Linked DNA regions of Homo sapiens: region 1 is linked to region 2. The links come from fine-mapping of genetic effects on gene expression. A gene starts in region 2. The other region holds a variant in brackets. All regions are shown on one strand. Distances are from middle to middle. Region 1 holds the start of FXYD3 (FXYD domain containing ion transport regulator 3). Region 2 holds the start of SYNE4 (spectrin repeat containing nuclear envelope family member 4).

Region 1 (8,322 bases), 890 kb after region 2:
TGGTGGTGTATGCCTGCAGTCCCAGCTATTCAGGAGGCTGAGGCAGGAGGATCGCTTGAGACCAGGAGTTTGAGGCTGCAGTGAGCTATGATTACACCACAGCACTCCAGCTTGGGCAACAGTGTGAGACGCTGTCTCTAAAACAAAAAAAAAGTCAGATGGCAGCTCTTTTAGAGGGAGTTGTCAGGGAAGGCCTCTCAGGGGGCTGCATTTGAGCAGAGGGAAGGGAGGGAGCCATGTGGTTCTGTGGAAGGAAGTGTTCCAGGCAGAGGAACCAGCAGGTGCAGAGGTCTGAGGCTGGCAGTATGTCTGCTGTGTCTGAGAGGCTTGGAGCAGAAGGAATGAGGAGCGTGGAGAGGTGAGGGCAGAGCGGGGAGTAGGGAGCAGGTCATTGGAACCTGGAGGCCAGATGAGGGTTTTGATCCAATAGCTCACCACCTCCAGGAAGTTTTCTCAAGTCAACACTTCTCCCAGCAGTTGATCTGAACCAACCAATGGCTTCTTGCAAACTGTCCTCACCTCCTGCGTGTGTCTATCTTGCTGGAATAGAACCTTCCCAAAGGCCAGGTTGCTGCCTCTAGTTCCTTTAATCCACTGTGTGGCATATTCAGTAACCCCATCCTAGTCCCTTCGTATCTTTGTCCTGTGATGCTCACGTCAGGCCCCAACCCTGTATGGGAACCCTTGGCACCAAGCAGTATGTGGGGTTGTGGGGAGGGGAAAGGGGGCACGGGCTCTCACCATAGTAGAAAGGACTGTTTTTATCTGCAAGGAAAGAAAAAAGATCATGAATCCAGGATTACAGCCAGGATGCAGGCCTTCCCCACCCAGGGGAGAATTTGGGGGTGTGACGGGTGAGAGTCCAGTCTGACTCACCTTCTAGGTCATTGGCGTCCAGGACAGGAAAGCCTAGTGGGAGAAGAGGGGAAGGAGGGGAGATGGTGATGCCGGCCTCAGCCAAGCCTTTGGGCAGGGCCTGGGGAGTTTCAGGGGCCTTGGGAAAGGGTCTCCTGCGGGACAGGGGTCCTGTCACTGAGCAGCCACCTCATCCCCTCATATCCCAACGAGGAAATGTGGACTCGCCCACTCAGCCCCACACCTCCGAGTCACGCCAGCATTCTGCCACCTGAAATGGGTTCTAATCTAGGAGGTTTTTAGCCACTATTTGGTCTCATGTTTCCAGACACGTGGTTAATCCATGCCTCCTGCAGCAGCGGGGGACTTTTCTGGTCAAGACGACAGATGGTTTCAGTTCCCAGATTCCTGTTTCCCCAAGTCCAATCATGCTCAAAGCCCATCCTCCCGCTTCCACCATGTCCACACCCACCTGGTCTGGTGTTTGCACATCATTGAAAATGACTCACTATTATACACTTAAATAGACTTTATTGAAAATGTAATTTTAGATCACTACCCTGCAGGGAATACTGGTCTTGCCCTATGTAATGGACAAAAAGTGTGCCTGTAATCCCAGAGCTTTGGGAGGCTGACGTGGAAGGATCTCTTGAGCCTGGGAGGTCAAGGCTGCAGTGAAAAAGTAAAAAGCGGGCTGGGCACAGTGGCTTAGGCCTGTAATCCCAAAACTTTGGAAGGCCGAGGCAGGAGGATCACTTGAGGTCAGGAGTTCGAGACCAGCCTGGCCAATATGGTGAAACCTTGTCTCTTCTAAAAATACAAAAGTTAGCCAGGCATGGCAGCACACGCCTGTAATGCCAGCTACTTGGGAGGCTGAGGCAGGAGAGTCGCTTGAACCTGGGAGGTGGAGGTTGCAGTGAGCCGAGATCATGCCACTGCACTCCAGCCTGGGCAACAGAGCGAGACTCTGTCTCCGAAAAAAAAAAAAGAAAAGAAAAAAGGGAAAAGTGTTTGGAAGTTAAAGATGCAGTCGCACTGAGCTGAGCCTTCTACTTGAAGTTTTTAGAGAACTGGCAGGGCAGTTATCTTCTTTCAGTGCTTTGAAGGTGTCATTTCATCATCTTCTCTAGCTTCCGTTATTTCTGTTTAATAGTCAATCAAGGCCAGTGCAGTGTGGCTCATGCCTGTAATCCCAGCACTTTGGAAGGCTGAGGTGGGAGGATCAAACTCAGCCAGGAGTTTGAGACCAGCTTGGGCAACACAGTGAGACCTCGTCTCTGCAAAAAATCAAAAATGCACTGGGCATGGTGGCGTGTGCCTGGCATTCTAGCTGTGTAGGAGGCTAAGAGAGTAGGATCGCTTGACCCCAGGAGTTCAAGGCTGTAGTGAACTGTGATTGCGCCATTGCACTCCAGCCTGAGCAACAGAGACTCCCTTTCAAAAACAAAAACAAAAACAAAAACAAAAACAAAAAAAGCCAAAAAAAAAGAAGAGATCGAGAGAATGGGGAAGACGGTGACTTTCCAGCTGTGTGAGCCAGCTCTTCTCGTGTATCCCCGGCTATCACTAGTCTGACTTTTCTTACCCTCAGGGAGATGCTGTTCTAACATTTACCACCTTCCCGGGGAGGTAGAAAAGCACAGGAGAGAGACAGAGGTTGGATCCCCGCATCCAGGGGATCCAGAGGAAAAGGCAGACGGGGGATGGGTACTCACCTGCCAGGAACACAAGCAGGCCCAGGGTCACCTTCTGCATGTCAGAGCGCTGGCCTAGAGGGGTGGCGGGAGGTCTGGCCTTAGCAGAGCCACCGGGAGGCTGGCCCTGTGCCTGTGGCTCCCCAACCCTCCTCCCCTGCTCCCCAGGCAGGGTGCGCAGCTCACCCGGGACAGGAAGGCTGGCATCTCGCTGGGCTGAGAGATAAGCCGCAGCTGCACCGTGGAGTGGGGACTGGGTGAAACTCGGGCCTGAGGCGGGAGGAGCCATAATAACTCACTGGACATGGACTTCAGGCTTTCTGGGAATCGCCCCGCAACCAAACAAGGGCGCCACTGCCCGCTGTTGTCCTCACTGGACAGATGGGGAGACTGAGGCTCTGAGAGGTGAAACTAGGTGCTCTAGCCAGGAAGTAGGATTTAAGCCAGGCCTGGCTCCCCAGCAGCTGCTCCTAACTAGGGACTGTCAGGGCCTTGGGGTGTTTGGGGAAGCGGGGCATTGGGAGCCAGGCGGCAGGAGGCCCGCTTCCCAGGAGTGTCTCCGTAGACCGCTCAGAGCCTGCCCGGCCCTGCCAGGACATTGCAGACTTCAGGCTGAGGACTGAGCAGGTTCTTCAAGCTGCTTGGGGGTGGGGTGGTGTGTGGAGGAATTGACGTGAGGCTGGGACTGGGGGTAGAGGGGGACTCTACCTCCTGGCTGCAGCCCTAGCTCCATCTCTGTTCCCCCGAACCTCCTGCCCCTCATCCCACACCCATGCCCTTCCCGGTCCCAGCCCTGGCTCTGCCTAGCCGGGGTCCCCAGCCCAGCCCCTGACCCTACCCTAGGCCCAGCAGAGTTCCTGGTGACAGCAAACACTTTCTCTTTCCCAGGTAGACCTGCTCAGCATAAGGAACTCGTTTCTCTCTCCTTCCTGACCTGGCATCAGTCCTGCCCTCTCACCAGCCTGCAAGGCTGCACCAAGCCCTGGCCTCCGAGCATGCCCTCCCCTGCCCTGTCCCTGCCCTGTCCCTGCCCAAATGCTGAGTGCATAGTTATCATAATTGTTTTTTTTTTTTTTTTTTTTGAGGCGGAGTTTCACTCTGTCACCCAGGCTGGAGTGCAATGGCATAATCTCAGCTCACTGCAACCTCTGCCTCCTGGGTTCAAGTGATTCTCCTGCCTCAGCCTCCTGAGTAGCTGAGACTACAGGC[G/A]TGTGCCACCAGTCTCGGCTAATTTTTGCATTTTTGGTAGAGCCAGGGTTTCACTGTGTTGGCCAGGCTGGTCTCCAACTCCTGACCTCAGGTGATCCACCCACCCCGGCCTCCCTCAGTGCTGGGATTACAGGTGTGAGCCACCACGCCTGGCCTAGTTATAATTTTGATAGCGAGAGCTGGCACTTCCTCCACCTTGCCCTGGAGTGCACACTGACCTTGCCGTGTTCTCACTCACTTAACCCCCCAGCAATCCCCGACGTCGTCCACTATGTCCTCATTTCACGAACAGCAAAAATGCTGAGAGAGGGTGGTGCCCGCAACCAACGGTGCGGGTGGTCCTTGCAGGTTGGCACAGACTCCTCCCTCTGCCTGGCACCCCAGGGCCTGGGAATCCTCTCAGCTTCCCAGTTAATTCCACATGCTGAACTCACAATTTTAGTTGGAGCATCCATTTCTTTTCCTTTTTTTGCGGGAAGAAAGCCTGAGGCTTTGGGGAGCATTACTGAGGCCCAGGAAGTGTTTAGGATCCCCAAAAGTGTTGGGGGTTGGGGGAGCTGGCGTGGGTGGGTGGGCAGGATGGCATGTTGGATAGGGGCACAGGTTGTAGGTGGACTGCCTGTGGTCTGAAGCTGTCACCCATGACCATACGAGTCCTGGTAATAACAGCAGATGCTTATTGAGTGTCTACCCCATGGGGGCATTTTCTCAGCTTCCCACTTACTCGCTCAATCTCTGCAGCTTAATGCAGGGGGCACTATTATTAGCCCACATTGCAGTTGTAATCCTGTAACCCCTGCAAATTCATCTTAAAGCCCTATGCTCTGTCGCCATGGCTGTTGAGTCTCACCTCTTAAGCCTCTTTCCAGGGGCTCCTCCAAGCCACCTCTGGCCTGCAAGGCCCCACTATACCCCCTTCCCATGATGTCATCCAGCCAAGACTGACAGATGGTATCCTCCTCGCCCCAGCCTCTGCAAAACAACGTCCAGTCCCATGCTTCCGGAGGCTGCAGGGAGCCGGGAGCTGGGTCTGCCCTCACGTTCCCCATTCAGGCTGTTGTCTGAAGAGGCTGTGGGCTGCTCCCGAACTGATGTGGTTGGTGAGCAGGTTAGAGAGGAAGGCAGCCCTGCAGCTGATGCTCTGTCTACCTGCTCTCATCCTTCCTGGCCATGAGGTCCCAAGGCCGGCCTGAGGACTGTTTCCCCCACCTGCCCTCTGCTATCCCCTCTATTCCTCCATACCATGGGAGAATGGTCTCATGTTCAGGGGTGGGTAGAAAGATCCTGCCCGCTGTGTGCTCCTGAAATCTCCCAAGCAACTCCCCATTTAAAGCTTCCCCCAGCAGCTCCATCCTTTTTTCCTGGAGGTCTCCAGAATCCAGATCCCTCAATGTCTGGACACCCCGAGTCCACCCAGCACTCCTTATCCACCCAGATCCCTCAATGTCTGGACACCCCGAGTCCACCCAGCATTCCTCATCCACCCAGATGTCCCCAGTCCATCTACGCACCCCTGGTCCACTTAGATACCCCTACCTACCCAGGCACCCCCTCTCCTCCACCCAGCTATCCCCAACCCAGATATCCCTAATCCATGCAGACACTAGTCTTTCAGACACCCCAACCACACTTATCAGTCCTGCCCTCACCTCAGCTGGTTCAACAAGTCCCTGAGAGGAGAATGGTGGGGAAAGGGACATTAGGGGAAGGGACTTCCGTTTATCTCCTGGCTCCAGAAAAGCATTTCACAAGATTTTAGGCGCTTTAACATAAAAGCTTCTATGGGGCAGGGTCAGGGGGCAGGTAGATACTTCCTAATTTAGGGGCAGAGACAAGGAGGGCTTGGAGGAAGGGGCCCCAGCTGCTCACCTGTGTGGTTCACCAGGCTGAGCAGAGGTTCCGGGAGAAATCGGGCTGCCAGGCGGAGTCCTGCGTTTATCCGAAGCTGCCACGCCCTAAGCAAACCTGGGCAGGTAGAAAACAAGTCAGATGCCCTGAGGCCCAGGGGCTCCATTCCTGCTCTTAAAGAGACAGCTTCACCCCCTCCCCAGCCATGGGCGGCAGGTTGCTCCCTGGGGTCACCAGGACCACAGCAGCCTCAGGTGAGACGGAGAATTGGATGGGCTGGAACTCGGCCCCTGGAATTAAGGGAGGAGCTTTCTCCAATCTCCTGTGCCCAGGAGAGGACCTTGAATGGGGAAGGTTCTGGGGTCTTTAAACGGCAGAGCCTCCAGGGCCATGCAGTGAGATGATGCGTTGGTGTTCCGACCTCACTTCTTTTCCTTAGATGATGTGTTTTGCCTGGTGGAAGGATTGCTGGCAGTTGTGGAGAACTTAAAGTCCCCTTCCAGGCCACATCTTGCCGCTGGTACAATTTCAGGATCAGCAGAAGATGCTAGCGTGACCAAAGTCAGGAGATGGGGCAGGGGTGGATATGAGGGAGCGGCTGGAACAGCAGGGAGGGGTCAGGGTGGGGACTCTGGGACCTTAGTCCTGGTCATAACCTGCTCCCTGCCCTGGGGAGAATGAGAACTGTCTGCCAGGCACCAGGCTGCAGTTTCCTAGCCAGGCTCTTTCCGTGGGTGCTGGGAGCCAGACGCCTGGGTCTACAGAGTGGGTGCTGGTGGGGGCGGCTGCCTCCTAGTCCACATAAGGCCCCCAGCACTGTACAAGCCTCCCTCCCCCTTTCCTCCCCTGTCTCCTGCTCCTCCTCCTCCAGGCATTCCTTCCGGATGGGGTCTGTGCAGGCTCCCCCATGGTCCCAGTTGGGGGTGCCCCCTCCCCTCAATTCCGCCTTCTTAGACAGAGGGACTTTTGTCTGGGGGCTGGATGGAGAACAAGGATCCTTTGAGCGGTTGGCGGAGGATTGGGGTCACGGGGAGGGGTAGGGCCAGGAAAGGGGTAGCTCTGCCCTGGACACCAGCTGGACTCCAGGCGACCCCAACACCACCGTGGGGGCGGGGAGGAGGGCTGCAGGGCCTGGCCAGGGAGAAGCAGCTGCTGGGAGTGTGGAGCACAGGACAGGAAAAGGGGGTTTGGGTCAAGGCTCTTCCGGAAACTGGCCTGCTGGGGGCAGAGAGAAGGACCCCCCACTTGTCATCGCTGAGGGATCGGGGAGGGCAATGTTCGCCCAGCGCTACACCCCTTCTCTATGTGGTTCCCTGGGGCAAGTTGTCAAGCCCAGGTCCTAGACAAGGGTAAGGCTCCCTCCTACCACTCTTAAGGCGGGGCCAGTTCCCATAAGGAAGCCGGGCGGGGGGACCTCGGGGTAGGGCTCTAAGCAACAGGTCCAGGAGGAGATAGAAACAGGAAGGGGAGGCCCGGAGGCCAACTCAGTATAGCTAAGGGGGGTCTTTGTGTCTGGGCGGATAGCGTCTCTTCCCTAGACCCTTGAAGCTTGTGTCTGGGACGACCCCTTGGTGGTCTTGGGAGTGGAATGGTGTCTCCCTCTGCTGGGAAGCCTGGGAACTGCAGGCATCCGAGAGCGAGTAGGGGCGTGTACAGGGTGGCTGGGAAGGGCGGGGGGTGCTCTGCCCTTCACCGGAACGGGGTGAACTGGAGAACTGTTGTCTAAAAATCTTGGAGGAACACCCCTGCCCGTGGTTAGATACAGAAGTATTTCCCAGACAGCTTGCTAAGGGGAAAAAAAACAAGGTATTGGGAAACCGTGCAGTGTGCTACCATTTGTGAGCGGTAAAATAATGCATATGTATATACTTGTAATGAATAAAATATTTTTGGAGATTGGCATCCATACCCATGGCTTCTGGAGAGGGAAACTGGGAGGCTGGAGGGTGGGGTGGAAGTGAGACTCACTCATTATCACGTGCCCTCTTATATTTTTTGAATTTTGCATCTTGAAAATGTACTACCTTAAAGGGGTTTAATTTAAAAAATTTGGTTCAGATTTAAAAAAAAATTTGCAGGTCAAAATTTCAACCTAAGGGCTGGTTTCAACCTGGGGGACCAGCAATTAGAGACTTCTGACAACCTCTGAATGTTCTGTAGTTTTAAACACCATGATCTTACATTCTGAGGTACAGACGTTTACGGTTTTTACCCAATCCAGGTCAACCATAAATTCTTCCTAGGCTGGACGTGAACATGCTGCGTCCAAGTGTGTGTTGGGCTGGCGCTGGGGCTTGGGTTTATGGTCAGAAGGACTCTGAGACCCTAGTGTGATGAGCACACTGAGTCTTAGGAAGGGCTGTGAGGAGTAGAGTTTGTGCAGTCACTTGCACCCTATTGGGGATTAGGTCTCATTTGGAGTGAGTCTTCTGGGCCAATCTGACTTCAGTTATGTTTTAAATGCATGTAGGTAATATGTTTTATTAATATATTGTATATAATATACATAATAAACATATTTGAAAAAGTTTCTCTCGTTTTGCTTTTGGAATCATTTGGGCCCAAAGAACCTGTTAAGGCTGTGAGTGGCTGTGATTTCTCCATATCCTGGGAATTCTTGCAAAATGAAAAAAACCAAACCTACAGATAGTTTCTGACATCATAAGTTTTTCAGGAACGCTGAATTAAAGCACAGAATCAAAGCCAGAGCATGTTA
Region 2 (8,306 bases):
AGGGGCTCTGGAGTGCAGCCCTGGGGGCTATGTGTAGAGCTTTTGAGAAAGGCTCCCTGTGTGTGGGGCCAGAGAATGTTCTCTGTGGGAGGATTGAGAAGGCATATGTGTAGTTGGATGGGCCCTTAGTGGACAGAGTAATGGGGGATTATTCTTGGGGCTCATTGTGTCCGGGCATGGAACGTAGGGGCTCTCTGTGTGGCTTGTAAGATGCTGAAGACTCAGATTTTAGAGACCAAGTGCGTTTCAGAAGAGGGCTGAGGTGAGGCCTGGCCTGTGATGGGGTGGAATGCTGCATCATGGTGTTAGGGCGGGAGGCCTAGTGACTTCAGTATGTCCTCCCCTCCCTACAGGATTGGGTGCAAGGAGTTGGTGTTGATGGAGGAGCAGGACGCCAGAGTCCCAGCCCTGGAACCGTTCAGAGTGGAGCAGGTTGTCAGAACTCAGGGTGCAGAGGGTGAAGGAGGCAGGCTGATTCCTGAGTTCTTGGGTTGGGACTGCCCCCTTCCACCAAATTCATTCTTACTGTCAGAGTCCATTCTGGAATGGCACTGGTCCCTTGACTTTAGACCCTGACCTGTCTGAGGACATCCTGAGCCTGTCTCCAGGCATAGGGGTTGCTCTGTGATGATATGTCCTCTGTGTGGGTTGAAGGGCCACACCTTCAGGGGGTCTTTCTATCCTAGGCACCACCTGTAATCTACTATGTCCCTGACTTCATCTCCAAAGAAGAGGAGGAGTATTTGCTTCGACAGGTGACCTCAGTGCCCTACTGGTCTGTTTTCCCACTCTTCCCATATTCCTCCCCAATGTCCATCCTCTGTATGAGAGCCCCCAAGGCTGCAGTGAAGACCCCGACAGAAGGAACAAGGAAGTTACAGAGCTCATACTCCCTCTACTGAGATAGCCCAATCCTGCTAGCTTAGAGAATAGGGGGTTATAAACATAGGCTGAGATAGCCCAGTTCAGATCATTGAGACTGGGGAGTAAAGAATTTTGTATTCAGATTTCTGTGCTGAGATAGCCCAGTAAACTCTTTCCTGTGCTAAAATAGCCCAGCATAGACCCAGAGCACAATAAGGTTACCAAATACAGACCATCTACGCTGAGATGGCCCAGTCTGCATTCTGTTCTTAAGGTTTGGGGAAAGAAGAATTTTCAAAGCTCAGAGTTCCTGCCCTTTGCAGCCCCAGTGCCTAAGTTACAGAGCACAGATCTTCCCTGTGTTGGAGTAACCCACTGATCTTGAGTCCAGGAAAAAATTAGCTACAGAACACAGACTTTTTTGCTGAGATAGCCCATTCCAGACCTTTGCGTTCTTGGCATTGAAAAATCTACATATTATAGAATTCCTGGGCTGAAATAGCCCAGTACAGCTCCATAACCATGAAGGGAATGAGTAGATTATCAACTAGAGCTAGACTTGTTGGACTGAGATAGCCCATTCTAGATCATTAGGATCTTGGCAGTGGAAGATTTTCAAAGTACTTTCTTTGCTGTGCTGAGATAGCCCAGCTTTGCATACTCCCTCCCCCAGGCAATAGGAACAAGTCGGTTGCAGAACTCAAACTGTCCTCAGAGAGCCCAGGAATCAGGAATTTTTGTTTGTTTGTTTTTTGAGACAATCTTGCTCTGTCGCCCAGGCTGGACTGCAGTGGCGTGATCTCGGTTCACTGTAGCCTCCGCCTCCTGGGTTCAACTGATTCTTGTGTTTCAGTCTCCTGAGTAGCTTGGATTGCAGGCGTGTGACACCACACCGCCTCCCAGGTTCAAGCGATTCTCCTGTCTCATCCTCCCAAGTAGCTGGGATTACAGGTGCATGCCACCATGCCCAGCTAAGTTTTGTATTTTTAGTAGAGACGGGGTTTCCCCATGTTGGCCAGGCTGGTCTCGAGCTCCTGACCTCAAGTGATCTGCCCGCCTCGGCCTCCCAAAGTGCTGGGATTACAGGCATGAGCAACCAGGTTTGGCACGGAATCAGGAAATTAGAATGCAGACTATTTGCTGGGCTGAAAGAGCCCTGTCCAGCCCCAGAACTCTGAGTAGATTGTGAGACCCACAACTCTCAGACCACGGTTGTGCAGCCCTGATTCCTAAATCCTGGTAGACACAGGTGGGCTTTGGGGCCAAAGGCGTTCCCAGGAAAAAAGGCAAACCACAAAATCCTAGGAACCCACCGCCCCAGGGAATGGTCCCACAGACACAGATGACCCATTTCCATCCCGGAGGTAAAGGCCCCTATGTTGGTCTAGGTGGGAGGATCATAGAGGGGTGATCCTGAGAAAGGAGTGACCCCCTTCCCACCTCTTAGGTTTTTAATGCCCCAAAGCCAAAGTGGACCCAGCTCTCTGGGAGAAAGTTACAGAACTGGGGTAAGTATCCCTGGCTGGGGGCAGGAGTGATTCTGGGATGTAGGCTGGGGCAGGGGACTCAGGTCCAATAGACTTAAGACATCAGAGGGTCCCTGACAGCTCAAGGGGCCCCAAGAGCCAGGAGGATTCTGAAGGGGTCAGTGGAGGTCCTGAGGGATTAGGGATTTCCTGATGAGTTGGGAGTATCTGAAAGGGACCTGTGGTCTGGAGAAGTGAGGAAACCTCTGAAGGACCCAGTGGCTATCTCCAAACGGTCAGGGGTCCCTGAGAGGATCAGGGTGCTTCCAGCCACTGTGGAATCCCTAATGGGGGATCTATTGCTATAGGGGGGCCCTCAGGACCCCATTGCCTTCCCCAGGTGGGCTTCCTCATCCCCGAGGGATGGTTCCTGAGCGGCTGCCCCCATGGCTCCAGCGCTACGTGGACAAAGTGTCAAACCTCAGCCTCTTTGGAGGCCTCCCAGCTAACCATGTCCTCGTGAACCAGTATCTGCCTGGGGAGGGCATCATGGTAACCACACACCCTCGGCCCGTGTCCCCCCACTCAGACTTCTGAGCTGTGCTGGGGCAGGGGACTCTGTACCCACCCTCACTCATTAGGCAGCCACATCTCCCAAACAGGCATTCACCTCCCTGTCCCTGGCTTGGGAAGCCCCCCTTTGACCCAGAGGGTGGGGGTTGTGGACTCCTGCCCTGCCCAGCCCTGGTGCCCACTCCCTAGCCCCACGAGGACGGACCACTGTACTACCCGACTGTCAGCACCATCAGCCTGGGCTCCCACACCGTGCTGGACTTCTACGAGCCGCGGCGGCCAGAGGACGATGACCCTACAGAACAGGTGGGCCCCCAGACACTGCCCCAGCTGCTTGTAGGCACTTCAACCTCGCACATCCTCCAAGATGACCTGGTCCCACATGCCTTCGGGGTACTCCTGGCACTCTCCCAGATACCTTCCCTTGTCCCCTCATGGGGTGTACCCACTTCCTCCCAGACACCCAACCCATCTGCTTACAGGGTGTCTGTCCCACATGCCATGATTTTCACAGGCTCCCCGATGCCCCAACCTGCTGAATGGATACCCCTGACTCCCCAGCAGACACTGATATCCTTAGATACCCCACCGCCATTAACTCGGGGGGCCTCACCTCCTCCCAGATGCTCTATCTGCCCCTGCTCAGGGTGCCCCAGACGTCCTGCTACTCCAGGAATGTGATTTGGGGTGCAGGACACCCCCAGATTCTCCTTGACCCCTTGACACAATTTCTCTGAGTGATGCATTTCTAGCACCCCAGTGTTCACAGAAACGCCCCTGAACACGCCGACCCACTCCTTGAGGCTTGCCCTCGAGCCCTGCATGCTCCTGGATGCTCTGACACTCCCTCAGCTGTGCGGTTGTCCTCTAATGTCCTGATGTCCTTGGGAACCCCCACTGCCTCTAACCTCTGCCTCACTCTCTCCTCACCTGGTCCTGGCTTCAGCCATGCTCTCTCAGCCCAGCTCTGCCTGTATTTCCTGGGGACTGCCTATTCCTGGGTCCCAGCCCCAGCCTCAGCCCCTTTGAGATCCCAGCTGCAGCTCCCACCGGCCGCTGACCCTTTGACGCCCCCATCTGCCACCTAGATCCTGCCCCCTCCCGAGGGACGGCAGAGCCCTCGCCCTCCCTTTCCAGCAGCCCCAGCCCAGGCCCCAGCAATTTTCACTCCTGAACCACCAAAGCCTCCATCATTGTGAGCACACTTGCTCTTCAGCTTTTGCCCCTGGGGACTAGCTGATCCCCGGAGGCTACCGACCTCTCGCCCACCCCCACCCCCCGACTTCTTGAGCCCTGCTGACCCTCAACCCGCCCTGCAGCCTCGGCCTCCGCCCCGGCCCACCACCTCGCTACTGCTGGAACCGCGCAGCCTGCTGGTGCTCCGCGGCCCCGCCTACACGCGTCTTCTCCACGGCATCGCCGCCGCCCGCGTAGACGCGCTGGACGCCGCCTCCTCGCCGCCCAATGCGGCAGCCTGCCCGTCGGCGCGGCCGGGAGCCTGCCTGGTGCGCGGCACCCGGGTCTCGCTGACCATCCGCCGCGTGCCCCGCGTGCTGCGCGCCGGCCTCCTGCTGGGCAAGTGACCGCCAGGGCCGGGACCCCTCGGATTCCCAGGTTCCTGCCCCTTTGGGGCTGCTGTGACTCCGCGACCTAGGAACCGTGGGCAAAGGGGGCTCCCCTGGGTTATTTATTTTCCCAATAATTTTGTGTGAGCTACAGAAGACCCCATACCAAATAAACAAAAAAATCTTTCCTTGGTTTTATATTTTTATTTTTTAGGGGCCAGATGCTTGGTTTCCTGAGGGGAGCGGCATCTAGGGTCTTAAATGAATGGGGTAGGCCCTGGAGGTCCGATTTCTGGGTTCCCAGTGGGGCAGAATCCAGGGCTCTTGAGGAGGTGGCGCAGGGGTTCTATCTGGAACCCTCTTGGATGGCGTGGAGTGATGCTGGGAGATTTAGCTACTGGCCTGCTAGGGAGGAAGGAGTTAAGTGACTCTTCTGTCACCTGAGCTGGGCATCAAATGGCCGGGTCCAGGTTCCTCTTGGAAGGGGCGGAGCCAGACCTGTCCTGGGCCTCTCCTGCAGCCTCAGGCCCGGGTGACTCCAGCGGAGGAGCTCTGGGACACCCTTGTCTAGGGAAGAGGTCTTACTGGCTGCCCTCACCTGACTTTGTGTCCCCAGGCCCCCAGCCATGGCCCTGTCCCTGCCTCTGGGCCCTAGACTTGGCTCAGAGCCCCTCAACCACCCACCGGGAGCACCTAGAGAGGCGGACATTGTTGGATGCACCGTCTGCCCCGCGTCCGGAGAGGAGAGCACGAGGTGGGGGCCGGGGCTTTGGAAGCTTGTTCCCAAAAGGGTAGGCGTGGTGGCAGGGGCCATGTGAGGGTAGGAGGTGCCATGGCTGTGATCGCCTGGGGACATAGGAGAGGCCACCAGGGTTGGGGTGACGGTAGGCTGAAAAGTGAGGTGTCGAGACTCACCCAGTCACCGCCCCCTGCCTCCTAGCCCAGAGCAGGCCCAGACCCTGGGACAGGACTCCTTGGGCCCTCCTGAGCACTTCCAGGGTGGGCCAAGGGGCAATGAGCCTGCCGCTCACCCCCCGAGATGGTCAACACCCTCTTCCTACGAGGACCCAGCTGGGGGCAAACACTGTGAGGTGAGCTGAGGTGACCCAGACCCCTTGTGCCAGCCCCACCTCCTCTCTGTCCCCTGGAGTCTGGCCTCCATACTGAGGACCGGGTGATGATTCTGGAAAGGTGTTGGGTGTCTGTAGGGGGAGGGACCTTCTGGAAAAGTGTTTCAATATCTGACCAACTGGGGAGACGTATTTCTTTCTTTCTTTTTTTTTTTGAGATGGAGTCTCTCTGTCACCTAGGCTGGAATGCAGTGGTGAGATCTCTGCTCACTGCAACCTCCGCCTCCCAGGTCCCAGTGATTCTCCTGCCTCAGCCACCCGAGTAGCTGGGATTACAGGCACATGCCACCATACCTGGCTAATTTTTTGTATTTTTAGTAGAGATGGGTTTTCGACTTGTTGGCCAGGCTAGTCTCGAACTCCCGACCTCAGGTGATCCACCCACCTCAGCCTCCCGAAGTGCTGGGATTACAGGCGTGCGTCACCGTGTCCAGCCATATTTCTTTTTTATTAAAAAAAAAAAAGTAGAGATGATGTCTCACCATGTTGCCCAGGCTGGTCTTGAACTCCTGGGCTCAAGTGATCCTCGGGCCTCGGCCTCCCAAAGTGCTGGGATTACAGATGTGAACCACTGCGCCCGGCTGAGAAGCATTTCATCATTGCTCCTGGTGTAGCCCCATTCTTCTTGGGGGGTACCCAGCCCCGCTCCCTGTCCAGACCCCCCAGGCCTCACACATCCAAGTTTCCAGGAGCTTTGAAAACCTGGAGACCTTGAACTAGATATCTGTCCTCAGGCCTGGCTCCACTGGGAAGGCCCCCCCAGTGGGAGCCATCCTGGTGCAGACAGACCCGGAGATGGACTGTGCCACAGAGAAGTTTCCAGAAGCTTACAGAAGAGGGGTGGGGATGGGAGCAGGGGTGATATCTTGATTGGCCCACTGGCCCTGACCTGGCTCCTGTGTTCCCCAGCACCCCATTTCTGGCCTGGAGGTACTAGAGGCTGAGCAGAACAGCCTGCACCTGTGCCTGCTGGGGCTGGGCCGCCGGCTGCAGGACCTGGAGCAAGGCCTGGGGCACTGGGCATTGGCCCAGAGTGGGATGGTGCAGCTGCAGGTAGGCAGGAGAGGCCAGGATGTGGGGGTGGGCACGGCCCCAGCAGTGGGTGCCAGCTTTCCGGGATGGGAAATGGGTTGAGTGCATGTTCCAGGCCTTTGGATAGGAAATGGGGGAGGGGGGTAACTCCAGGTTTTGGGTCCCTGGTGTGTGCGTGGGGTGATGTCCATATGTCCCCAGGCCCTCCAGGTGGACCTACGAGGGGCAGCTGAGCGTGTGGAGGCGCTGCTAGCGTTTGGTGAGGGGCTGGCACAGCGGAGTGAGCCCAGGGCCTGGGCAGCCCTGGAGCAGATCCTGCGGGCCCTGGGAGCTTACCGAGACTCCATCTTCCGGCGGCTCTGGCAGCTGCAGGCCCAGCTGGTCAGCTACAGCCTGGTAGGGCCCATCTTGATACCCCCCACCCAACCCAGGCCCCAACCTCATAGCCTCCATGACCTCTGTCCTTTGACCCAGGTGTTCGAGGAGGCCAACACGCTGGACCAGGACTTGGAGGTCGAGGGAGACTCGGACTGGCCAGGACCTGGTGGGGTCTGGGGGCCCTGGGCACCCAGTAGCCTCCCCACTTCCACAGAGTTGGAGTGGGATCCGGCGGGGGACATTGGGGGCCTTGGGCCCTTGGGACAAAAGACAGCCCGGACACTAGGAGTGCCCTGTGAGCTGTGTGGCCAGAGGGGGCCCCAGGGCAGGGGACAAGGCCTTGAGGTGAGAGCAGACCCCCTTGAGGGACCTTCTGCCAGGCACCCTGGGGACATCTCTGCGCACCTTCTAGCAAGATCCTGCCCTTCCAAGGAGGTGTCAGTGGCTCTGTCTCCCCCTCTATCTCTGTCTCTCGGTGTCTCCTTCTATCTCACTGTTTCTCTCTCTCGTCTGTCTCTGTCTACATCCTCAAGCCCCATCTCAAATTCACTCCTATCCTGAGGCCCCCAGATGATGCCCCACTCACCTCCTGACTGTCCCAGTCTCTCCTGAAGTGCCACCTCTTCAGGGAGGCCTGTCGTGACCTCCAAACATGAGCACTCCTATCTTCTTACTTTATTTCCTAACAGCACTCACCACAGCTTGACTTTGTACATTTACTTATTTTTAAAAATTTTTATTTATTTTTTGAGATGGAGTCTCACTCTGTCACCCAGGCTGGAGTGTAGTGGTGCAATCCTGGCTCACTGCAAACTCTGCCTCCCAGGTTCAAGAGATTCTCCTACCTCGGCCTCCCGAGTAGCTGGGATTACAGGTGTGCACCACCATTCCTGGCTAATTTTTGTATTTTTAGTAGAGATGGGGTTTCATCATGTTGGCCAGGCTAGTCTCGAACGCCTGACCTCAGGTGATCCGCCTGCCTTGGCCTCCCAAAGTGCTGGGATTACAGGCATAAGCCACTGTACCAGGCCTCATTTACTTATTAATTTATGGTCTCTCTCCTGTCAAATATAAGCTCCACGGAGGCCAGGAATTTGCCTATTTCCATCCCCACTGTGTCCTCAGCTCCTAGAACAGTTCCTGGCTTGTAACAGAAACTCATTACACATTTATTGAATGAATGAATAAATAATTCTCTCCTCTCTTGGTTTCTTTGGCTCTGCCTTTGTCTGTCCTGTGAGATCTCTCTGCTCCCCCAGAATCTCATCTCTATGACATCCCTATCCTGGCCCTCCCCC

What was found. PIP is the estimated chance that this variant, and not a neighbour inherited with it, causes the effect.
Region 1: its variant is fine-mapped to the expression of SYNE4 in aorta (GTEx, PIP 0.96).

Annotation. Positions count from the first base shown.
Region 1 is chr19:35,113,665-35,121,986 of GRCh38, reverse strand. FXYD3 (FXYD domain containing ion transport regulator 3) reads right to left here and starts at 6,164. Exons shown (of 9, transcript NM_005971.4): 1 at 6,028-6,164; 2 at 5,628-5,723; 3 at 2,571-2,624; 4 at 877-909; 5 at 742-765. The coding sequence starts at 2,610. LOC124904701 (hepatitis A virus cellular receptor 1-like) reads right to left here. Exons shown (of 3, transcript XR_007067238.1): 3 at 8,318-8,322. The variant G/A (reference allele first, on the strand shown) is at 3,759.
Region 2 is chr19:36,005,470-36,013,775 of GRCh38, reverse strand. SYNE4 (spectrin repeat containing nuclear envelope family member 4) reads left to right here and starts at 4,963. Exons shown (of 8, transcript NM_001039876.3): 1 at 4,963-5,222; 2 at 5,409-5,559; 3 at 6,508-6,651; 4 at 6,832-7,026; 5 at 7,105-7,353. The coding sequence starts at 5,095. ALKBH6 (alkB homolog 6) reads left to right here. Exons shown (of 7, transcript NM_032878.5): 2 at 354-432; 3 at 687-755; 4 at 2,312-2,372; 5 at 2,731-2,882; 6 at 3,093-3,209; 7 at 4,223-4,656. The coding sequence starts at 379. The coding sequence ends at 4,486. RefSeq lists enhancers at 4,710-5,249, 5,250-5,791.